2 separate regions of the Homo sapiens genome follow, and region 1 is linked to region 2. Evidence: fine-mapped expression QTL. Tissue or cell type: esophagus muscle. Region 2 holds a variant in brackets; the other region holds the start of a gene. All regions are shown on one strand. Distances are from middle to middle. Region 1 holds the start of RASEF (RAS and EF-hand domain containing). Region 2 has its middle 37 kb from the start of RASEF.

Evidence for each region. PIP is the estimated chance that this variant, and not a neighbour inherited with it, causes the effect.
Region 1: RASEF starts here. The variant in region 2 is the best candidate, but not a certain one, in a credible set for the expression of RASEF in esophagus muscle (GTEx, PIP 0.59).

What each region holds. Positions count from the first base shown.
Region 1 is chr9:83,061,412-83,064,329 of GRCh38, forward strand. RASEF (RAS and EF-hand domain containing) reads right to left here and starts at 1,731. Exons shown (of 17, transcript NM_152573.4): 1 at 1,026-1,731. The coding sequence starts at 1,456.
Region 2 is chr9:83,098,301-83,101,218 of GRCh38, forward strand. It overlaps a transcript of RASEF not described here. Among named protein-coding and RNA genes, the nearest start is that of RASEF, 37 kb to the left of the region's middle. The variant C/T (reference allele first, on the strand shown) is at 1,824.

The DNA of each region.
Region 1 (2,918 bases), 37 kb before region 2:
CAAAATGATGCCTTTCAGAGCGTCTTAATAACGACAGCCAGAGCTCAGCAAAATTTCAGCTAAAATCCAAACATAAAGCAGAAAAACACTTAACAGCACTGAAATGTGTGTATCGCTGGGGCATGAAGTGAAAAATAGCAGCTGGAGACACCCACCACACCAAGGCATGGACAAATGCAAACGAAACTCAAAAAGAAAATCTGAGCCTCTCTCCCTCCAGGCCCTGAAATCCCACCTGCAGGCATCCCCTTACCTCCTGATAATTAAGTCCGTGACTTGACACGTTATTTCTGTCAGAGCAGTAAGAGCAGAGAATATACTGTGTCATTTTATCATTTTATTCCGTCACATAAAAAGTGAGTTTTTCAGTTCACAAAATTTGGGTCAAATCTCTGCTGTTTAACTGGGCAAGTCCCTTAACGTCTGTCTAATTTCTAGGTCTAAGTTCAGAAATAAGCTAGCCTACCTTCTAGGGATGTTATGAAAATTAAATGCGTGAACTCTGTAAAATGCCTAGCAGGTACATCAATCAATATTTGTGTCCAGCAATGTAAAAGCCCAACAAAGTTTCCTTTTCTATAGTCTTAGGAAAACGACAAATCAGAAAACTATTACAGAGGACGCCAAATTGGCAAACAGCCCGGGCCCCAGCCCTGGGGTGAGAGCCTAAGGCCTGGGGTAGAAGGTGACGTAACCAGGACGCGGTGAGATGTGGCGCGCGCGCCTAAACTCGCGCGGGGCGCCAGCAGCTGCAGATTTCAGGAGAGCTCCTGTAATGAACACGCCGCCCTTTGCAGGCTCAGGATTCAGCACGTAAAACTTTCTCCCCAAACGCTGACTCTCTGACTCCTTTTTCTTAACTCTAGCGGATCTTGGAAAAGTCAAAGCGAGTAGGTGAAGGAAGACAAGCAACTCACAGAGAAGACTAGGGGGGGGGGCCATTGGGTCTGCACACCTGCAAGTAAGTGGGAAGAAGCAAGCAGGAAGCGCCAGAATAACCTCCCGCCCCCAGCTCACACTCGCACCTGGGAATGAACTTGGCTTCGTCCCCAAGTCGCGCCTGGAAATCCTGCCAAGCCCGGCCGGGACTCGCCGGGCCGCACGAGGTGGCCAGCGCCGCCGCCGCGTCCTCGTCGCCTTCGTCCTCCTCGCTGTCGTGTGTCTCCGGCCCCGCCTCAGACACGGCGGGCGCGGGATCCAGAGGACCCCAGTCCCGGCGCCGCCCCCCGCGGAGGGACCCGAGGAAGCCACGCGCGAACTCCTGGAAGGTGATGGCGCCGTCACGGTCGGCGTCCAGCCGCTGGAATACTGCCTCGGCGTCGGCCGGCCGCACCCGCAGCTCCGTGCACAGTGCCCGGAACTCCTCGCGCTCCAGGCGCCCCGAGCGGTTCGCGTCGCAGGCGGCGAAGACTGAGCGCAGCCGGGCCAGCTCCTCTCCGTCCCCATCCGCCTCCATCCCGCCTGGCGGGGGCGGCCGAGAGGGCTCCGGAGCGCCGCGGGGCGCAGGGCCCTCCCTGGAAGGACGGGGCCACCTGCTGCCGCCGGGAGGCCCGGCGAGTTTGGCTCGTCCGGCTGGTTCGGCCACTTGAGGGAACGTCGGGCGGGGCGAGGAACGTCGGGGGTGGCCGAGCGGCTCCCTTCGACGACGGTTCGGGCCAGCCCCCAACAGGTCCCGGGAGCGGTGGGGTGCGCCCGGGCTCCAGGCACCGCCAAGGAGCGCCTCCTGCGACTGAGCGCCCAAGCGCCGAGGTGGCTCTCGCCACTTTCCCGGCGGGTGCAGCTCCGCCCAGCCAGGGAGGAGGAGCGCGCGCCACCGCTTCTCCAGTTCCCACGCCCCGGAGTCCACCGCTGCTTGCCGCGCAGGTGGGGGAGACCTGGCTGGCCGGAACTGGGATTCGGGGGGAGCATTGCCCTTCGGCGTAAGCGCTGCTCAGGTAGAGCCCAGCGCTCCGCTTCTCCACAGAACGTGCTGGCGCGCGCGTCAGAAGCTAACCGCACAGAGGTAAGGTAGGTAGGGGTAGGATTCCGAATGGGTTAAGTGCATTTTATTATCTTACTCCCGAAACTTGATAAACTTCTTTATATAGAAGTTTCTTACAAACCAAAGTACAAGATTTACCAGAAGACCCCATTCTCAATTTTACTGGCTTTCGTTAACGCATTTTTGTGCGTCTAACGTTAAGGTCCCACTGCTTAAACACAGATCTTCCAGATCTCCAATTCCACATTTTTTCTCAATCCTTGTCTCCAAAACCTGAGAAAAAATTTGATAAACAAAATCGTTTGGCAGACAGCATTGTTTAAACAAAGACTGAGGTCGTTTTGTAGGTTTTTTTACTTAAACAAACTTTATGGAAATTACATATCCAAAGGTAGGTTACCCTTTGGTTTTAAACACTTTTTTCGACAATACTATTGTTTCTTTAACACTGCTTAATGGATATGAGATCTTTAAAATCCACCCATTTTGATCCTTTTAAACACTTTTTCCATCCTTTTCCAGGAGACCCTCAGTCTGTCATACGGCTTATGTAACCGTGCCTTTAGGCGATTCTCATAGCCTGTGAAGATATATTTGGCTCATTTTTACTTTATTTACATTATCCATTTCCTCCACATTTTAGACTTTCTGACTCTGTATTTTTCTTTTATCTCATTCTGGATTCTCTTTATCGTTTATTACTTTGATTTTTTAAAAATGTGATCATTAAGTAAGGGATATTACTGACACGTTCCTACTAGGCTAGTGTTCTTAAACATAAAGCTAAGTGCTAAACATCTGGGGAACTATTTCCTCTTGAATTGTACAATAAACATGGTCAACACTAACAGCTTCTATTAAACTGTAACTACTACTGATAACCCCCATCTGAAAATTTAACTGGTAAATTATGAGAGGCATTCCATTAGAAGTCCTG
Region 2 (2,918 bases):
TATAAAACACTAAGAAATTGAAGTGTTATTAAAAGAACAAAATATACCAAACTGGAAGATTATAAACATAGGAAAAATCAAATCTAACCTATGATTAATCCCACGATTTTATGTGATTTTTCTGCTTAGTTTAACTACTGTTTACTATGTTTATAATTTTAACCCTCATGATTATGACTACTTTCTACTCTGTTGACAGAAAGATTTTATTTATCTCCCTAATATCATTATAATCATAAAATTATTAAGTGCCTAATTGCAACTAAGATGATGTATTAGTCCATTCTCACACTGCTGATAAAGGCATACCCAAGACTGAGTAATTTAAAAAAGAAACAGGTTTAATTGACTCACAGTGTCACATGGCTGGGGAGGCTTTACAATCATGGTGGAAGGCAAGGAGGAGCAAAGTCACATCTTACATGGCAGCAGGCAAAGAGGGAGCTTGTGCAGGGAATTCTCATTTATAAAACTATCAGATCTTGTGAGTCTTATTTGCTACCGTGAAAACAGGAAGGGAGAAAACCCCCCATGATTCCATTATCTCCATCTGGCCCCACCCTTAACACATGGGGATTATTACAATTCAAGGTGAGATTCAGGTGGCGACACAGAGCCAAACCATATCAGATGGTTCTAGGAACTGAACACAGACCCAGATTTTTCCTCTCATAATTTATAATAGAGCAGGATCTGAGAATAGTGGCTTATTGTAGATGTACACACCCACAGAGAAAGGATAATCAAATCCTCTATATCCTTCATCCACCCTGACATCTATCTCTGTCTTTCCATATATCTATATTTATTATATGTTCTATCTATCCATATATCTATGATGTCTCATTATTATGCTGTAATATTCCCTGTACCTGTTATAGTCTGATTTAAGTGCACATATATATACTTATGCTCTCTACATAAGTGACTACAAAAGCCCACTTTTAAAACCTTAAACTCCAAAGCTGAAAAAATCTCAAGGGCAAAGTTAGCATGTTTTTCTTCCATGATGACTCTTTTAAGAACTTATTGAAAAGCTTGGCATTCAGAGAACATCACAGAAAGGGTCTGATGTTCCAGGGCATAAAAAGATGGAAAATCATAGGCGAGATCCTGTTCACCATACCGTGTTACGCTAAGTTATTTTCTCATATACTCAGGTGATCCACCCTTTAAGGTAATTTTATGTAAGAGAAAGTCAAACTTATATAGCAGGTAAATCAAGAAGTAGCTATTCATTTTACAAATAATTTGAGGCATAGTTCCAAAATATAGCAAGCCCTTACTCAGTAGTTAAAATGAGACTTGATTCACAAAATTTCAATTTATACATAATTTGCCATGAGATGGTCTTGATGACCTGGTCTCAGTCTAGTCCTCAGCACACATTTATGAAGCACTGACCTTGTCCCAGGAACTGCGCTTTGCTTGGTGAGCAGCACCTGGAGCACGCACAAAGATATTTTGGGGGCAGCCTCTAAATTTGTGAGCTTGCATACATTAGTGCCAGAATCTGCAGAATCCCCATTGGAAAATAAAAATCAAGAGAGTCATGGAAGTGCTTATCCCATATTATGCTTAAAGTAACTAAGTGACCTCAAATATTATGGTGATACAGCACTTATGAAATCAGATGCAAATAATTTAAGCAATAGCACAGCATCCATCATCTTATTTAAGATATCAAGCAATCCAACATTATGTACATATTGTTAATTTAAGAGTTTTTCGTGCATTAAAAGTGAATGTCTAGAAATTGAGTAAGATTAAGCTACTGTTGCTGTGTGTTTGCAGTTTTGAGTGAAAACAGACTAAGAATGAGA[C/T]TTTATTTCTTCCCAGAACTTTGAGCTTGTGAAAGACTTTCCCAAATATATCTAAATACATTATCTAGCAAGCTGAGAACAGACTTTCAACTTTTAATGAATAACTTCTTTCAAGTATATGACATTTCTATTAAAAAGAAAAAGAAATATAGTATTGTTCTCTCATTGCTTCTTCAGAGAGCATTCAAGGCAAGAACAGCTCAGAGCCCAAGATGAAGCTAGTAAAAGATAAAACTGAACTCATAAAATTTTTCATTCAGCTGCTTACATCAGAACATCTTTTCACTGGCTTTCAACCAACCAGTATCACAAAGCTTACAAAAGTTACATGGTGATCATCTGTTCTCAGCCAGAAATACTCTCCACTCTAAATTCACAGAATATTATGTGAATCAATATTCAGTTTATGAAAATCAGCCCATCTCATTGTCATATCATTTTTAACTAATCATATTTGGAAGGAGAAGTATACCCCCTCTCCTTCCATACAGAAGGAAGTCAATGGGATTTCATGATAACAAATCAGAAAGCCTGGTTCCATGCTTGCTAGCTTTGTGACCTGTACCATACCTCTTGCAACTCCTAGAACCTCAATCATTCTGCCTGCAAATTGGAGATGCTGCTACTTCTGACACAGGGAAGAGAGGAAGTTAATGAAATAATATTATAACAAGTGCCCTGTACAGTTCCTGGAACATAGAATGGGCTCAATAAATGATAACTATTATCATTGTTATTATCTCTTATGTTTTTCATAGTTTTATTGATTCCTGTAAATGTTAGTTCAGTTACACAAATGGCAAAAGATTCAGTTGATTGGTCAACTATTAGGTATATTACCTACTAAATAGCAATGTTTCCTTAGGAGAATTACATTTGCTCCTCCAGTTTCAAATATTTCTTTTTTTGAGTAGTCATAATCCAATGTGCAAACCCTTCTTATCACACAGATACTAGGAGATTCTGTCCCCCTTTAAATGTGCATTTCAGTTCATTACTTCACGATGACATGAGGAAGCTACAAAAGCATTACTAGCCTTATATTCTGGCAATATAGAAACATGGAGACCACTGAAAAAGTCATTCTGAGTCCAG